2 separate regions of the Homo sapiens genome follow, and region 2 is linked to region 1. The links come from fine-mapping of genetic effects on gene expression. A gene starts in region 1. The other region holds a variant in brackets. All regions are shown on one strand. Distances are between the middles of the regions.

Region 1 (9,298 bases):
AAAGCACCTTTTCAGTCTTTAGTAAACTCAAGGCCATCTTAAAGGAAGAGCATAATTGATGCTTTGCCATATTTGTGTTAACTCAAATGACATTTTCAAACACTTGCCAAAAGGGCAAATCCTGAAAAGACTAGTGAAAAGCAAACTGTTGAAATATAAACTATACAAAGCATGCATACCTCTTAGCCAATATTTTTTCCTTTTTAGTTTGGTATACACCAAAGGAGAAATTTACAGAGGTCAAAGAAAGGCTCTTTTGCAGTTAAGGAGAGGGGAGGGGGAGGAGAGGAAGGGGAGAGTGAGGGACACACCACAAGCGTAAAACGAACTGGTGGCATTCAGTCAAGAAGGCAGGTAAGGCTCCAGAGGCCGCGAATTGTGTACAAGTCAGCTGGACTCTCCAAAGCCTTCCAGAGCCGGGCTGCTTCGCGCTTCTTGGCTTTTTCCTTTCAACCTAGCCCGGTGGCGGAGGAGTGCAGCAGGAGGGGGATTTTTCGCTGCTGGGAAGTGGCAGGTAGGAAAAGGAATCTGATCCGGCCCAAAAGTCAGCAATTAAAGTCTTAACCGCGACCCATCTGTCGTGGGACAGAGAACCCCCCACCCCCCTTTGCCCCAGCAAAGCCCTTCCCGTGCCCTTTGTCTGAGCAGGGGAAAGGAGGAGACTGGTTCTGCGGCCCCAACAGCAAAAGGAAAGAAAATTTCCAGCGCTGACCAATACTGAGTGTCTGCGCCCGGTCCAAGGACAACTACGAAGCGCCTCTCGGGGATGTGGCGCCTCTCCGCTTGCTCTGCCCAGGTGCTCTGTCCCGTGGCCCCAGCAAAAGGAAAGAAAAATTTGCAGTCTGGGCGAATCCAAAGTAGGTGCACCCGGGCCAAGGACGGTTCCAAAGGGCCGCCTTGGAGTGTAGCGCCTCTTTGCTTTCTCCCCCCGGGCGCTCTGCCCTTCTCTGCTGCATCAGTTGTCCCAGCCTGAAGCCACCTCGAGGCCTGAAACGAGGCACTCCCAGGCCTAGCTGCTGAAGCCCGTCGTATTCAGCCAGACCTCTCCCCCCATCTTGCCCCTTGGCTGTCCTCAACTTCCAATAAGACTCACTCCCCCTCCCCCATTTCTTCAGCCTGTGAGCTTTCCCACCACTCACCCAGCTGCCACTGCCTTTCTGTTAGACATCAGGCGCGTTCCCAGCCCAAGCTCTCTTCCTTTCCACCCCTCTTGGCTCTTGGGGCAGAGGCGGAACTGATTTTCGCGGAAAGTTAGAGTGGGGCGGAGGGACCCGGGTAGCTTGCCTGGCATGTGTTGAGAATGGGGTAGAGAGGAGGGAATACTTTGACGTCAATTTCCTTCGTTTAAGGTCCAGTTTCGCATCTTTGAGTGAAATTGCTCAGGGACTTAATAATGCCAGGGTTTCTAGTCCGCCGTTATCCAGCCTTCCGGGGCCAACCCTTTTCAGAGCTCTAGCAGAAGGACGCCCCCACTACACTTGGCCCAATACCTGACACCCGCCACCACCTGTCTCACAGCCACGTGGGGTTAACTCACCAGGCAGATGGCACCTTGAGCTGCTGCGGTCGGCCACTCACTTCAGGGTCCAGGCCCCACCGCCCTTTGCTTGCAGCTCTGCGCGCTCCTTTGGCCTCCTCACGCCAGCTTACAGCTGCCGTGTCTTCAAACTCTGTGCAGCCCTTCCTGCGCGCCTAGCTGCGGGGTTCAGCTCTGCGTGATCGCCGGCTGGCAAGAGACTGCGCCGGGGAAGGTGCGCGCCGCAGCTTCCAGCGCGCTCCTGGACGCTCTTGCCTGGGCGGCGGGAGCCCGCACAGTCGGAGCCGCAGCCGTAGGCGTCTTCCCGGAAACCTCCACACGCTCCACCGCGCCGCCCCAGGAGTTTCGGCCGAGGTGCCACACCCGGCGGGTGTTCGGCTGGGGGGCGTTGCAGGGGAAATGGTCTCTACGCGCGCTCTTTGGGAGGCACAAGTGCACCTGTGGACACAACTCTGGCGCCGGCAAGTCTCCTTGATGCGCACAGACATCCAGGCTGCCGCCTGCGCTGCTTAGAGGAGGCTTGCAGACACCGGCAACCGGAGTGGGGATTAATACACTCTGTTTCCCTTCTCCGCTCGGCATTCAGTATTTAAAATGCTCCGGGAGAGCTCTAGCTGAGCGCAGGTACTTAAGAAAGAAATGCTCTTTCCAGACTCTCAATGGAAACTCGGAAGCGTGCGCGCGCGCGCGTCTGTGTGTATCCTGGGTGGGGTCCGATCGAGTCAAGGTTGCTTGTGGTGTGACACCCAATTATTCCTTGCAACTCCTCAACTTTGTGGATGAAAGTGCGACTTTCCCAGGCCTATTGCCGCGGGCATTGCCTTTACAAAACCACAAACACAGAACAAGCCTCCTAAGGCTTTTAATTTTCGGGGCGTTTGGGGAGGCCAGTTACCTGCCGGCGTCTTCTAAATGGTCCAGACTCGGTTCGGGCCGCGGAGACTCCGGGATTCCGGGAGCGGGCAACCCCGAGCCCTGGAGGAAGAAATAGGTCTGCGGAGGTGGCACAGATCTGACCCGGCCCAGCCCGGCCCAGCCCGGCCCACCCAGGCCCAGTGGAACCAAGCAGCGAAACCTCGGATTTCACTGCCGAGGCTTCCTAGCCGAGGCTTTCTGGAGCTTGGCGTTTGATAAATATAGCCTGGCGTTTGCCCCTGAATTAGACTCCGTTTCCTTATTTAGCCCTTGCACAATGATTTTAGATGATGTCACTTAGAGCTAAACGAGAAAATTGATCTCAGATTTGCTTGGCCTCTAAAGCCTGGTTAAGCAGATTGAGAATTAGAAAGGCAGAGGAAGCAAAAGGGGGGTGGGGATGGGGGGGTGCGGAGGGTAGTGAAGTGTGCGCGGCAGAGTGTGTGCGCAGAGGGGAGGGCGCGCCAAGCGGGTGAAAGCGCCCCCGCCTTTTCTGGGCGGGGAACCTCACTCACCAATGAAAAGTAGTTACTGACTGCAGATGAAAAAAAAAAAAGTTTTCCTGTTGACTGTTGGAAGCGAATTGAGCAATTATCTAGTTTACCTTCTCCTCTTGGAAGTTAACGATTGGCGAGATCTTGGCTGCGTTATTGACACAACACTTTCTATTGATAGAAATAAGTAGTGATTGTCCCCGAGTCATTGGTGCGCCAAGAACTCTGCGATGGGCTGGCAGGAGTCCATTGGGCTGGGCAGGCAGGTTCGGCTGGTGATGCTGGGGAGGAGGAGGAGGAGGAGGCTACTGGTGGTGATGGTGCCCGTCCCCCTCTCCGCAGGTCTGTGACAAGCAGGGAACAAGGCAACGGACGGCGCAACCCAGCCCCGGCTGACGGACGCTGGCGACTCAGACATGGACAGTAGCTGCCACAACGCGACTACCAAAATGTTAGCGACTGCTCCAGCTCGGGGCAACATGATGAGCACGTCCAAACCCTTGGCTTTCTCCATTGAACGAATCATGGCGCGCACCCCAGAGCCCAAGGCCCTGCCAGTCCCCCACTTCCTGCAGGGAGCCTTACCCAAGGGGGAACCCAAGCACTCTCTGCATCTCAACTCGTCGATCCCCTGCATGATCCCCTTCGTGCCTGTGGCCTACGACACGAGCCCCAAGGCAGGAGTGACGGGCTCCGAGCCGCGGAAGGCCAGTCTGGAGGCCCCGGCGGCGCCCGCGGCGGTGCCCTCGGCTCCCGCATTCAGCTGCAGCGACCTGCTCAACTGCGCACTGAGTCTCAAGGGCGACCTGGCCCGCGACGCGCTGCCGCTGCAGCAGTACAAGCTGGTAAGGCCGCGTGTGGTCAACCACTCTTCATTCCACGCCATGGGCGCCTTGTGCTACCTGAACCGAGGTGACGGCCCATGCCACCCGGCAGCCGGCGTGAACATCCACCCGGTGGCCTCCTACTTCCTCAGTTCCCCTTTGCACCCGCAGCCAAAAACGTATTTAGCCGAAAGGAATAAACTGGTGGTCCCGGCGGTGGAGAAATACCCTTCTGGAGTAGCTTTCAAAGACCTGTCCCAGGCTCAGCTGCAGCATTACATGAAAGAAAGCGCCCAGCTTCTGTCGGAAAAAATCGCGTTCAAAACCTCGGATTTCAGCCGAGGCTCTCCTAATGCCAAGCCCAAAGTTTTCACTTGCGAAGTGTGTGGAAAGGCAAGTACAATGCAAAACGGAGATCCTTTCCTTCCCTCCCTTCCTTCCTTCCTTCCTTCCCTCCCTCCCTCCCTCCTTCCCTCCTTCCTTCCCTCCCTCCTTCCTTCCTTCCTTCCTTCCTTCCTTCCTTCCTTCCTTCCTTCCTTCCTTCCTTCCTTCCTTCCCTCCCTCGCTCCTCCTTTCCTTCCTCCCTTTTTAGTATTTTGGGGGTAATTATTTGCATACACTTTTTGTTAAGATTCTCTTCCTCCTACCCTCTCTCTGCCCGGTTTGATTTCAAAGTTACTTGTGCGGCTAACCTGTTCTACGTGTGTTTAATTTTAAGGTCTTTAATGCGCACTATAACTTAACCCGTCACATGCCAGTGCACACAGGAGCCAGACCCTTCGTTTGCAAAGTGTGCGGAAAAGGTTTCAGGCAAGCAAGCACCCTGTGCAGGCACAAGATCATTCACACGCAGGTGTGTTCATCTGTCTCAATTTCACCTAGTTTGCTTCCGAACTGTTTGCAGAAAAACAGCCGATAAAACCTTACTCTTTAGGATAACGTTCATTTAAAAAGTGCTAGCTAAACAGGGTGAATGCCATGTATTGTTTGCTTTTGTTCTGCTTGAAAGTGTTTAAGCATTACTGTGTTTTGAGCTTGCAGAACTTCACATAATTAGAAAATATCTAAATGTCTCTGCTTTTCCTTTCTCCTGCTTAGGAAAAACCTCACAAATGTAACCAGTGTGGCAAAGCATTTAATAGAAGTTCCACTTTAAACACTCATACCCGAATACACGCGGGCTACAAACCGTTTGTGTGTGAATTCTGTGGCAAAGGGTTTCATCAAAAAGGTATGCAAACCAGGAAATGTCTCTCATGGTTAGTCTTATGAAAAGCCATACTTAATACTTTCGGGATGTTTTAGAAGACGATGTTTAAAGTGTAGTTATGTGGCACTTTTGTTGCCATTCTAACTCCCTACTCGAAGTCTGATTAGTATTAGAGAAAAGCATGATTCATAAAACAAGGGTATATGTTTTAACTGCATGCTCTCATTGTATGTAATTGGACTGATAAATGTGTATTAAAATTTAAGGAAACGGCATCACTGTTGATGCGATGCTTGAAAATAAACTTGGGGAGACAAGTGCAGGCACAGATAGTAGCCCTGCACTTGTTGTGGGACCTGTGGCGGCTCTTCTGCTTGCCTGGCGCTACCTTCCACGTGTCTGCTCCTCCCTTTTTAAGCTATTTTTTTTTTCAGAACCATATTCCTGTCATTTGTGTGTTTCAGGGAATTACAAAAACCACAAGTTGACCCACAGCGGGGAGAAGCAGTTCAAGTGCAATATCTGCAACAAGGCTTTCCACCAGGTTTACAACCTCACCTTCCACATGCACACCCACAACGACAAGAAGCCTTTCACCTGCCCCACGTGCGGCAAGGGTTTCTGCAGGAACTTTGACCTCAAGAAGCATGTCCGCAAGCTGCACGACAGCAGCCTGGGGCTGGCCCGCACGCCAGCTGGCGAACCAGGCACTGAACCGCCGCCCCCGCTACCGCAGCAGCCGCCGATGACGCTGCCTCCTCTGCAGCCGCCGCTGCCAACCCCGGGGCCCCTGCAGCCCGGGCTCCACCAGGGCCACCAGTGATCGAGGCTAAGGGTCCTCCCAGCCTCAGCCGTGCCCCCACGCTGAGGCAGCGGCAGACTAGAGCTCCTGGTCCGAGTTCGTCTGCAGACCCCAGGGCATGTTGGGCCCCACACTTCAGGGCCGACCAGAAGCCTCTGCATCCCCTGGCCTTTCGCCTCTTGCATGCACCTGCTAAATGGTTTTGTGTATTATATTCTATATAGGCACTAACAATTATGAAAAATTTGGAGGGTTTTGCTTGTTTTCTGTTTTTCTTTTTCTTTTTTTTTAATTTGGAAAGACTTTTCATCTTGGGTGGAGAGATGGTGTTTATTTTGTTTTGTTTTGTTTAAACAAATTTCTGCTATATTTATTGAGATCTGTATTATTCTACCCGGGAATGCTGCATCATTTTAATTTTATTATTGTATATATTTCCATTGTGTTGATTCTCCGGTCTCAAGATGTCTGCTGGATGTTGATCATTTCCTCTTTCCCTGAAGTAACAAAACACTGTGTGTATGTCATATATACACGCATAGATGTGTGCGCCCATAGGGGTACATTCCACATTCGTGAGCACACACCCATACACATTAGATAAGGGTGGTTCATTATGGATGATTTTGAATTTTGGTTTTGATTATTGCACGTGAAAATTGATTCATTGACTGTTGGAAATAAATACTTGGAACATGCTTATTTAATCAACAAACTTTAGGGCTCTGTTCATACTATTCAGCTAAAGATCCCTGACTCTGACCCCCTCATCCCTCCGCCTTTTTAAAATCTAAAACCCTGGATTAGTAATACTTAATGTTTTGGTCTGAAAATCTATCAAGTGCAAATAGTCTCTTCTAAATGGTTACACCTTTGGGTAAAGTTATGAAATCTGGTAAAGTTCAGAAGCAGAAGACATGGAGTTTTCTAATAGAAACATAAATTTGGCTTGGACCACCTGATACGTTCGTAGTGCACAGTTAAATGGGAACAACGTATCCAGTAGCTGTATGCAATGTACATCTCCTCAAACGCATTACAATCATAGATAGACAGGTATCTATTGTTTGCATCCTGACGGCACATACTGACTTGTACACAGCTGGCAAACGGAGCCTCCGTGTTTTTACATGTGTATGTATGTTTATAGACGAATATACTTCCATTCAAGGAGGAAACATGGATGAAAACCAAACTGTGGCGGGTGCCAGGTCCTTGAAATGCTTCAAGTGTTAATCAGCGGCTCCGCTGTGAGCTCGGGCTCTGGTGTTTCTAACTGCACGTCTCTCCTGTTTTCTTGCCAAAACAATGAAACAACTGCTAAAGACTTTAATTAAGAGGGGTAATTAGTTCAGATTTATCAAAGCCGGGTTGTTATACTATTAGCTGCTCAGTAGAAGCTGCCAGACAAACAGCCCAGCACCGTAGTGCTACTGCAGCGGGGCCACATCCCGGGAGGGCGACTGGGGGGAGCGGGCCCCGGGGTCCTCGCCTCGCCGCTTCGGACTCCACCACCCCGCCAGGCCCGGGGCCAGTGCGGCCAGCCCCGCAGGCCTCAGGGGCCCCGTGGCCCCTCCCCCGGCCCACTCTCTCCCTCCAGGGCTGTTGTCGCGGAGAATCCACCATCGGTCCACACCGCGGGCCCAGGTTCTACAGAGTCCAGGGATCTCCTTTCTGCACCCACCGTAGCGCGTCCTCACCAGCTCCGGGACCGCCCCGACAGTTGCGGGGAATAAACTTAAATCTGTGGCCCCGCCTCACTTCTATGAGTCCTGCGGCGCCCAGGAAAAGGCGGCGCGGAGCTGAGAAAGGCGAGACCGAGACCGGAGATGTGCAGGGGACACTGCAGGGGCGCGGCGGCTGCCACCCGAACTCACATTTCATGGCGGGGAAAGACTGACCGCTCTGGTCACCGAGAGTGGGTGACCTGAGTGCTTCTCAACGGCCTAGGAAGCAGGGAGATTACTAACAGCCCCTGTGGGGTGATCGCGGACGGGTAGGTGACCCAGCCCCGCAGGGACCCTCACGCCAAGTCCGGCCTGAGCTCCTTCCGGGTTGTGGAGCGAGGTTGGGGGAATCTAGAGAGCACGGACCTGGTGTGGGCTGGGAAGGTCCCCAGAACAGGGAGGTCCTGACACTTCCTGCAGACATCGGGTCCAGACCTTTCTCAACGCTTGTGCTAGTACGCACGCCCTTTGGACACAGGGAACAAGCTCCAGCCCAGCCATTATTAGATCGAAAACCGATGTTTCTCCTTTCCTGACCTCATGCCCCGACCTTGCCCACTGTTGGGGCCAAATCCATGTTAGATTTGACTTCGGAAAGCGAGGGAGCGAGGGTCTTGGAATTCCATAGTTGGCTGGATTCCGAATCTATGCGGCCCTAAGTAGCTCCATCTCTCACAGAATATCACAGCTGATTTGATAATCTTGTCTCAGGCTCTGGCCACATTCCATGACAGCTGCCTGTCACGAAGGAGTTTTGAGAGATGCTGCAGAGTTTATGAATCACCCTTTCCAAAGTAGCTTAGTTGGATTTTTAAAGCATTCGGTTTGAGTAAATGTGAATGAGATCAGGAGTCGTTATAATTTGCAACCTATACATTTCAGTGAAAAAGCAGAAAATGGCCTTTGCTTCTTGAACTTGTCAATACATATTTGAACTTATTCTCAAAACCCAGGGTGTAGATTCTTCTAGACATTCGAGATGACACGATCTTACTGGTGGAAAGCAAAATGAATATTATTGAGGAAGATTACTCAACCATTAAATACCCCAGGCCAGTGTACTTTGACATATTGGGGTTGGGGGTACTCTTCTATGGAATAATATAATTGGTTTGTTTCAATCCAGAAAAAAAGAAAGAGAGAAAGGAGGGAGAAGGAGAAAAGAGAGGGAGGTTGAGAGAGAAAGAGAGAGAGAGGGAGAGGAGAGGAGAGGAGAGGAGAGGAGAGGAGAGGAGAGGAGAGGAGAGGAGAGGAGAAAGATGAGGAGAGGAAAAAGAAAGCCTAAGAAGAAAAGATGAGAATGAATAGAATAAGAGAAGGAAAGAAACAGAAAAAATAGAGAATCAGTTATCGTACATTCCACATTGTAATGTGGAATGACTTTGTTATAAGGTCTGATCTGGGATGGTGCAATAGTTCCAGTTAAGGCAGGCACAAGGAAATTATTGTCTGCTCACATGTTTGAGCAGCTGGGAGTGTTGGTGATTAAGTAGAGGAAGCCAAAAGGAAATTCTCTAAAATGAAGCACTCAAGAGAACTACTTTTCCGGAGGTAAATTATCAATGAACTTTGATTTATGATAAAGCTGTTAGAGCTTACATCAAGGAGAATCTTCTTAAAGAGAGTATGAGCTTAGGGATTAAGTTTATGGGAGAAAAAAAATTGATGAAGTGGAACACTTAGCTAATAGTCAGGGAAAGACCTTACAATTCTCTCGCCTCAACTAATATTGAAAGGTGATTTTTTTCCTTCAACTATCTAACCTCTGCATGTGTGTATGTCTCTGTGT
Region 2 (9,298 bases), 64 kb after region 1:
CAAGTCTTTGCTATTGTGAATAATGCCGCAATAAACATACGTGTGCATGTGTCTTTATAGCAGCATGATTTATAGTTCTTTGGGTATATACCCAGTAATGGGATGGCTGGGTCAAATGGTATTTCCAGTTCTAGATCCCTGAGGAATCGCCACACTGACTTCCACAATGGTTGAACTACTTTACTGTCCCACCAACAGTGTAAAAGTGTTCCTATTTCTCCACATCCTCTCCAGGACCTGTTGTTTCCTGACTTTTTAATGATTGCCATTCTAACTGGTGTGAGATGGTATCTCATAGTGGTTTTGATTTGCATTTCTCTGATGGCCAGTGATGATGAGCATTTTTTCATGTGTTTTTTGGCTGCATAAATGTCCTCTTTTGAGAAGTGTCTGTTCATGTCCTTCACCCACTTTTTGATGGGGTTGTTTGTTTTTTTCTTGTAAATTTGTTTGAGTTCATTGTAGATTCTGGATATTAGCCGTCTGTCAGATGAGTAGGTTGCGAAAATTTTCTCCCATTTTGTAGGTTGCCTGTTCACTCTGATGGTAGTTTCTTTTGCTGTGCAGAAGCTCTTTAGTTTAATTAGATCCCATTTGTCAATTTTGGCTTTTGTTGCCATTGCTTTTGGTGTTTTAGACATGAAGTCCTTGCCCATGCCTATGTCCTGAATGGTAATGCCTAGGTTTTCTTCTAGGGTTTTTATGGTTTTAGGTCTAACGTTTAAGTCTTTAATCCATCTTGAATTGATTTTTGTATAAGGTGTAAGGAAGGGATCCAGTTTCAGCTTTCTGCCTATGGCTAGCCAGTTTTCCCAGCACCATTTATTAAATAGGGAATCCTTTCCCCATTGCTTGTTTTTCTCAGGTTTGTCAAAGATCAGATAGTTGTAGATATGCGGCATTATTTCTGAGGGCTCTGTTCTGTTCCATTGATCTATATCTCTATTTTGGTACCAGTACCATGCTGTTTTGGTTACTGTAGCCTTGTAGTATAGTTTGAAGTCAGGTAGTGTGATGCCTCCAGCTTTGTTCTTTTGGCTTAGGATTGACTTGGCGATGCGGGCTCTTTTTTGGTTCCGTATGAACTTTAAAGTAGTTTTTTCCAATTCTGTGAAGAAAGTCATTGGTAGCTTGATGGGGATGGCATTGAATCTGTAAATTACCTTGGGCAGTATGGCCATTTTCACGATATTGATTCTTCCTACCCATGAGCATGGAATGTTCTTCCATTTGTTTGTATCCTCTTTTATTTCCTTCAGCAGTGGTTTGTAGTTCTCCTTGAAGAGGTCCTTCACATCCCTTGTAAGTTGGATTCCTAGGTATTTTATTCTCTTTGAAGCAATTGTGAATGGGAGATCACTCATGATTTGACTCTCTGTTTGTCTGTTGTTGCTGTATAAGAATGCTTGTGATTTTTGTACATTGATTTTGTATCCTGAGACTTTGCTGAAGTTGCTTATCAGCTTAAGGAGATTTTGGGCTAAGAGAATGGGGTTTTCTAGATATACAATCATGTCATCTGCAAACAGGGACAATTTGACTTCCTCTTTTCCTAATTGAATACCCTTTATTTCCTTCTCCTGCCTAATTGCCCTGGCCAGAACTTCCAACACTATGTTGAATAGGAGTGGTGAGAGAGGGCATCCCTGTCTTGTGCCAGTTTTCAAAGGGAATGCTTCCAGTTTTTGCCCATTCAGTATGATATTGGCTGTGGGTTTGTCATAGATAGCTCTTATTATTTTGAAGTACATCCCATCAATACCTAATTTATTGAGAGTTTTTAGCATGAAGGGTTGTTGAATTTTGTCAAAGGCTTTTTCTGCATCTATTGAGATAATCATGTGGTTTTTGTCTTTGGCTCTGGTTATATGCTGGATTACATTTATTGATTTGCGTATATTGAATCAGCCTTGCATCCCAGGGATGAAGCCCACTTGATCATGGTGGATAAGCTTTTTGATGTGCTGCTGGATTTGGTTTGCCAGTATTTTATTGAGGATTTTTGCATCAATGTTCATCAAGGATATTGGTCTAAAATTCTCTTTTTTGGTTGTGTCTCTGCCTGGCTTTGGTATAAGAACGATGCTGGCCTCATAAAATGAGTTAGGGAGGATTCCCTCTTTTTCTATTGATTGGAATAGTTTCAGAAGGAATGGTACCAGTTCCTCCTTGTACCTCGGGTAGAATTCGGCTGTGAATCCATCTGGTCCTGGACTCTTTTTGGTTGGTAAGCTATTGATTATTGCCACAATTTCAGCTCCTGTTATTGGTCTATTCAGAGATTCAACTTCTTCCTGGTTTAGTCTTGGGAGAGTGTATGTGTCGAGGAATTTATCCATTTCTTCTAGATTTTCTAGTTTATTTGCGTAGAGGTGTTTGTAGTATTCTCTGATGGTAGTTTGTATTTCTGTGGGATCGGTGGTGATATCCCCTTTATCATTTTTTATTGTGTCTATTTGCTTCTTCTCTCTTTTTTTCTTTAGTAGTCTTGCTAGTGGTCTATCAATTTTGTTGATCCTTTCAAAAAACCAGCTCCTGGATTCATTAATTTTTTGAAGGCTTTTTTGTGTCTCTATTTCCTTCAGTTCTGCTCTGATTTTAGTTATTTCTTGCCTTCTGCTAGCTTTTGAATGTGTTTGCTCTTGCTTTTCTAGTTCTTTTAATTGTGATGTCAGGGTGTCAATTTTGGATCTTTCCTGCTTTCTCTTGTGGGCATTTAGTGCTATAAATTTCCCTCTACACACTGCTTTGAATGCGTCCCAGAGATTCTGGTATGTTGTGTCTTTGTTCTCGTTGGTTTCAAAGAACATCTTTATTTCTGCCTTCATTTCGTTATGTACCCAGTAGTCATTCAGGAGCAGGTTGTTCAGTTTCCATGTAGTTGAGCGGTTCTGAGTGAGATTCTTAATCCTGAGTTGTAGTTTGATTGCACTGTGGTCTGAGAGATAGTTTGTTATAATTTCTGTTCTTTTACATTTGCTGAGGAGAGGTTTACTTCCCAGTATGTGGTCAATTTTGGAATAGGGGTGGTGTGGAGCTGAAAAAAAAGTATATTCTGTTGATTTGGGGTGGAGAGTTCTGTAGATGTCTATCAGGTCCGCTTGGTGCAGAGCTGAGTTCAATACCTGGGTATCCTTGTTGACTTTCTGTCTCATTGATCTGTCTAATGTTGACAGTGGGGTGTTAAAGTCTCCCATTATTAATGTGTGGGAGTCTAAGTCTCTTTGTAGGTCACTCAGGACTTGCTTTATGAATCTTGGTGCTCCTGTATTGGGTGCATATATATTTAGGATAGTTAGCTCTTCTTGTTGAATTGATCCCTTTACCATTATGTAATGGCCTTCTTTGTCTCTTTTGATCTTTGTTGGTTTAAAGTCTGTTTTATCAGAGACTAGGATTGCAACCCCTGCCTTTTTTTGTTTTCCATTGGCTTGGTAGATCTTCCTCCATCCTTTTATTTTGAGCCTATGTGTGTCTCTGCACGTGAGATGGGTTTCCTGAATACAGCACACTGATGGGTCTTGACTCTTTATCCAACTTGCCAGTCTGTGTCTTTTAATTGGAGCATTTAGTCCATTGACATTTAAAGTTAATATTGTTATGTGTGAATTTGATCCTGTCATTATGATGTTAGCTGGTGATTTTGCTCGTTAGTTGATGCAGTTTCTTCCTAGTGTTGACGGTCTTTACATTTTGGCATGATTTTGCAGCGGCTGGTACTGTTTGTTCCTTTCCATGTTTAGTGCTTCCTTCAGGAGCTCTTGTAAGGCAGGCCTGGTGGTGACAAAATCTCTCAGCATTTGCTTGTCTGTAAAGGATTTTATTTCTCCTTCACTTATGAAGCTTAGTTTGGCTGGATGTGAAATTCTGGGTTGAAAATTCTTTTCTTTAAGAATGTTGAATATTGGCCCCCACTCTCTTCTGGCTTGTAGGGTTTCTGCCGAGAGACCAGCTGTTAGTCTGATGGGCTTCCCTTTGAGGGTAACCCAACCTTTCTCTCTGGCTGCCCTTAACATTTTTTCCTTCATTTCAACTTTGGTGAATCTGACAATTATGTGTCTTGGAGTTGCTCTTGTTGAGGAGTATCTTTGTGGCGTTCTCTGTATTTCCTGAATCTGAACGTTGGCCTGCCTTGCTAGATTGGGGAAGTTCTCCTGGATAATATCCTGCAGAGTGTTTTCCAACTTGGTTCCATTCTCCCCATCACTTTCAGGGACACCAATCAGACGTAGATTTGGTCTTTTCACATAGTCCCATATTTCTTGGAGGCTTTGCTCATTTCTTTTTATTCTTTTTTCTCTAAA[C/A]TTCCCTTCTCACTTCATTTCATTCCTTTCATCTTCCATTGCTGATACCCTTTCTTCCAGTTGATCGCATCGGCTCCTGAGGCTTCTGCATTCTTCACGTAGTTCTCGAGCCTTGGTTTTCAGCTCCATCAGCTCCTTTAAGCACTTCTCTGTATTGGTTATTCTAGTTATACATTCTTCTAAAATTTTTTCAAAGTTTTCAACTTCTTTGCCTTTGGTTTGAATGTCCTCCCGTAGCTCAGAGTAATTTGATCGTCTGAAGCCTTCTTCTCTCAGCTCGTCAAAGTCATTCTCCATCCAGCTTTGTTCCGTTGCTGGTGAGGAACTGCGTTCCTTTGGAGGAGGAGAAGCACTCTGCGTTTTAGAGTTTCCAGTTTTTCTGTTCTGTTTTTTCCCCACCTTTGGGGTTTTATCTACTTTTGGTCTTTGATGATGGTGATGTACAGATGGGTTTTTGGTGTGGATGTCCTTTCTGTTTGTTAGTTTTCCTTCTAACAGAGAGGACCCTCAGCTGCAGGTCTGTTGGAATACCCTGCCATGTGAGGTGTCAGTGTGCCCTTGCTGGGGGGTGCCTCCCAGTTAGGCTGCTCGGGGGTCAGGGGTCAGGGACCCACTTGAGGAGGCAGTCTGCCGGTTCTCAGATCTCCAGCTGCGTGCTGGGAGAACCACTGCTCTCTTCAAAGCTGTCAGACAGGGACACCTAAGTCTGCAGAGGTTACTGCTGTCTTTTTGTTTGTCTGTGCCCTGCCCCCAGAGGTGGAGCCTACAGAGGCAGGCAGGCCTCCTTGAGCTGTGGTGGGCTCCACCCAGTTGTAGCTTCCTGGCTGCTTTGTTTACCTAATCAAGGCTGGGCAATGGCGGGCGCTCCTCCCCCAGCCTCGCTGCCGCCTTGCAGTTTGATCTCAGACTGCTGTGCTAGCAATCAGCGAGACTCCATGGGCGTAGGACCTTCTGAGCCAGGTGCAGGATATAATCTCGTGGTGCACCGTTTTTTAAGCCCGTCGGAAAAGCGCAGTATTCAGGTGGGAGTGACCCGATTTTCCAGGTGCCGTCCGTCACCCCTTTCTTTGACTCAGAAAGGGAACTCCCTGACCCCTTGTGCTTCCCAAGTGTGTCAATGCCTCGCCCTGCTTCGGCTCGCGCACGGTGCACGCACCCACTGACCTGTGCCCACTGTCTGGCACTCCCTAGTGAGATGAACCCGGTACCTCAGATGGAAATGCAGAAATCACCCGTCTTCTGCGTCGCTCACGCTGGGAGCTGTAGACGGGAGCTGTTACTATTCGGCCATCTTGGCTCCTCCGCCCTAAAATCCTCTTTTCATTCCTAGTCATTCTCTGTAAAGGTAACTACTATTTTGATAATTTCTAGTGTATCCTTTCTAAAAAAAGTTCTGTGCAACTAAAATTATACATTTTAAATAGTTCTTTTATTTTTTTAACTGTAAAGACAGAATATTGCTGCTAGACAGGATCTAGAGCTAGAAAATTTGGGTTGGAATTCTGTCTCCTCTGATGACCAGTTATACAACTTTGAATACGTTTTTAAATCTCTCTGTGCTTCAGTTCCTTCATCTGTAAAATGTGGCCAATACGCTTCAGAGGGCTGTTTTTAGGATTTAACGTATCATTTATGTAAAGCACATTCCTGGCACACAGCACTCAGCAAATGTGGTCTCCAATTAATATTTATATATTAAAAAAGATTATATTTTAACTCTTGTTTCAGTTAGCTTTGCGTGACTGTATTTATATATTCTTGTTTTTTAATCTTTTGTGAATCACATTGTTTTAGATGTCTCATATACACAATATACAATTTAAAAATTGTACCCAATATGAGAGTTTTTCTTTTAGTAGATGAATATATGCCATTTATATTTGTCGATACAATAAATGTATTAGGCTTTATTTCTTGGTGACAGGGTCTTGCTCTGTCACCCAGGCTGGAGTGCAGTGGTGTGATCATAGCTCATGGCAGCCTTGAACTTCTAGGCTCAAGTGATCCTCCCACTTCAGCCTCCCAAGTGGCTGAGACTACAAGTGTATGTCACCATGCCCAGCTATTTAATTTTTTTTTTTTTTTTTGGTAGAAACAAGGTCTTGCTATGTTTCCCAGGTTGGTCTTGAACTCCTGGGCTCAAGTGATCCTCCTGCTTCAGCCTCTCAAAGTGCTGGGATTATGGGCATGAGACACTGCACTCAGCCTTGGATTTTTTTTTTTTTTATGTGTGTGGTTTTTCTTTTTATAAGTTCAACAATGTTTTGTCTGTTTTAAAACTTCTACTTAACTTTATAGCAGTTTATATAATATTACAGTTAATCTTCTATTTTTTAATTTAGCAAATTTAAATGGTTCTATTCCCTGCAGAAATAAATAAGAAAATGAGCAATTCACACTTTCTGTTAGCTCTTTCCTTATCCAATATCAGCTTGACTAAGCCACAGTCCACAGGCCACATATGGTCCAGGATGGCTTTGCATGCAGCCCAACACAAATTCGTAAACTTTCTTATAATATTATGAGATTTTTATTTTTATTTTTATTTTTGCAATTTGCTTTTTAGCTCATCAGCTGTCATTAGTGTTAGTGTATTTTATGCACAGCCCAAGACAATTCTTCTTCTTCTAATGTGGCCCAGGGAAGCCAAAAGTTTGGACACCCTATTGTATCTTAAAAATGTTAGTTACATGGTGAAACCCCATCTCTACTAAAAATACAAAAAACTAGCCAGGCGTGGTGGCGGGCGCCTGCAGTCCCAGCTACTCGGGAGGCTGAGGCAGGAGGATGGTGTGAACCTGGGAGGCAGAGCTTGCCGTGAGCCGAGATCGTGCTACTGCCCTCCAGCCTGGGTGACAGAGCAAGACTCTGTCTCAAAAAAAAAAAAAAATTACATTCTTATTTTCAATATCTTTTGGTAGTTTCCTATATATTTTATATATAGTTAAATCTTGATTTATCAAAATAGGTATGCTGAAATGATAGAATTTCAGTTTGTTTAGTTATGTATATGCGTAGATTCAGTGAACAAAATATTCAATCTCAAAAGTCACTTAGAATTGTGGTTTAAATGATTTGAGATTGTATTTACTTTTATAATCTTTTTCAACTTTTTTAAAAGTTTCTTTTCTAGTTTTTAGTTTATTTTATTTATTTATGTTTTTATGTATGTATGTATGTATATATTTAATAGAGACAGGGTTTCACCACGTTGCCCAGGCTGGTCTTCAATTCCTGGGTTCAAGCAATCTTCCTGCCTTGCCCTCCCAAAGTGCTGGGATTACAGGTGTGAGTCAAAGTGCCTGGCTCAACTTTTATTTTAGATTCAGTAGTAACATGTACATGGGTATATTACATGATGCTGGGATTTGGTATACAAATTATCCTGTCACCCAGGTTCTGATTCTAATACTCAACATTTAGTTTTTCAACCCTTGCCTCCCTTCCTCCCTCCCCCATCTAGTAGTCCCCAGTTTCTATTGTTGCCATTTTTATGTCCATGAGTACCCAATGTTTAGCTCCTACTTATAAGTGAGAACATACAGTATTTGCTGGGTTTTCTGTTCCTTTTTGAATTCGCTTGTATTAGTTCGTTTTCACATTGCTATAAAGAACTGCCTGACACTGGGTAATTTATAAAGGAAAGAAGTTTAATTGACTCACAGTTCTGCATGGCTGAGGAGGCCTCAGGAAACTTAAAATCATGGTGGAAGGTGAAGAGGAACCAAGGCACCTTTTTTACAAGGTGGTAGGAAAGAGAAATGCTGAGCAAAGAGGGAAGAGCCCCTTATAAAACCATCAGATCTTGTGAGAACTCACTTACTATCATGAGAACAGCATGGGGAAACTGCCCCCATGATTCAATTACCTCCACTTGGTCTCTCCCTTGGATTATGGGGATCACAATTCAAGATGAGATTTGAGTGGGGACAGAAAGCCTAACCATATCAGGCCTGCAGCTGCATCCATGTTGAGGCAAAGGGCATGATTTCATTCTTTTTATGACTCCTTCGTATTTCTTGTTATATATGCACCACATTTTCTGTATCTAATCCACTGTTGGTGGGCACCTAGGTTGATTCCATGTCTTTGATATTGTGAATAATGTTGCAATGAAGGTGTGAGTGCATGTGTCTTTTGGTAGAATGATTTATTTTCTTTTGGATATATACCCAGTAATGGGATTTCTGAGTTAAATGGTGGTTCTGTTTTAGGTTCTTTGAGAAATCTTCAAACTGTTTTCCACACTGACTGAAGTACTTTCCACTCCCACCAACAGTGTGTAAGCAGTCCCTTTTCTCTACAGTCTCACCAACATGTGTTGTTTTTTGACCTTTTTAATAATATCCATCCTGACTGGTATGAGGTGGTGTCTCACTGTGGTTTTGTTTTGTATTTCTCTGATGATTAGTGATGTGGAACTTTTTTTTCATGTTTGTTAGCTTCTTGTATGTCTTCTTTTGAGATGTGTCTGTTCGTGTCTTTGGCCCATTTTTTAATGCGGTTGCTTCTTTTTCATTTTTTTAAGTTTTTTGTAGATTCTGGATATCAGACCTTTGTCAGATGTAACTTTTTTGTTATTAATTTATAACATAATTGCATTGTCATAAGCAAATATAGTCTGATAGCAATTTTTAAAGTTTTTTGACCTAAAAGTAAAAAACCTTGCTTGTGGCCTTTTTTTTTTTTTTTTTTTTTTTACTTATTTCCTATGTGCTAGAGAAGAATTTGCATTCTCTGTTTTAGGTGGAGGGTTCTGTATATGTATAGCCTATTTCATTGTTCAAACCTTTTCTATCCATTGGCCTCTCAATAATAGAGAGCTGTGTTGACATCTCTCCCTTTAATGGTGATTGTCCATTTCCTCTTTTTTTTTTTGCAATTTTATAACTTTATTTGATGTATTTGATGATCAGCGATTAGTTCTCATCCACATCGACTGTCTTTAGATTTTTGAAAGTGGTAACAGGTATGTAGGTAACCAAAATATAGAG

Direction of the effects. Alleles are on the strand shown, and positions count from the first base shown. SD is a standard deviation of normalised expression in the study named.
With allele A in place of C in region 2, the expression in cerebral cortex of the gene that starts at base 4,142 in region 1 is lower (moderate effect, 0.58 SD a copy in GTEx).

The links. PIP is the estimated chance that this variant, and not a neighbour inherited with it, causes the effect. A credible set is the group of variants that fine-mapping cannot tell apart.
Region 2: its variant is the best candidate, but not a certain one, in a credible set for the expression of FEZF1-AS1 in cerebral cortex (GTEx, PIP 0.66).

Annotation. Positions count from the first base shown.
Region 1 is chr7:122,298,502-122,307,799 of GRCh38, reverse strand. It overlaps FEZF1-AS1 (FEZF1 antisense RNA 1), which reads right to left and starts at 4,142. Exons shown (of 7, transcript NR_036484.1): 1 at 3,532-4,142; 2 at 3,057-3,227; 3 at 1,538-2,512; 4 at 1,140-1,284; 5 at 312-497. It overlaps FEZF1 (FEZ family zinc finger 1), which reads left to right and starts at 3,050. Exons shown (of 4, transcript NM_001024613.4): 1 at 3,050-4,163; 2 at 4,489-4,623; 3 at 4,869-5,001; 4 at 5,445-6,497. The coding sequence starts at 3,363. The coding sequence ends at 5,803.
Region 2 is chr7:122,234,833-122,244,130 of GRCh38, reverse strand. It overlaps the pseudogene RPL31P37. Among named protein-coding and RNA genes, the nearest start is that of FEZF1-AS1, 64 kb to the left of the region's middle. The variant C/A (reference allele first, on the strand shown) is at 4,305.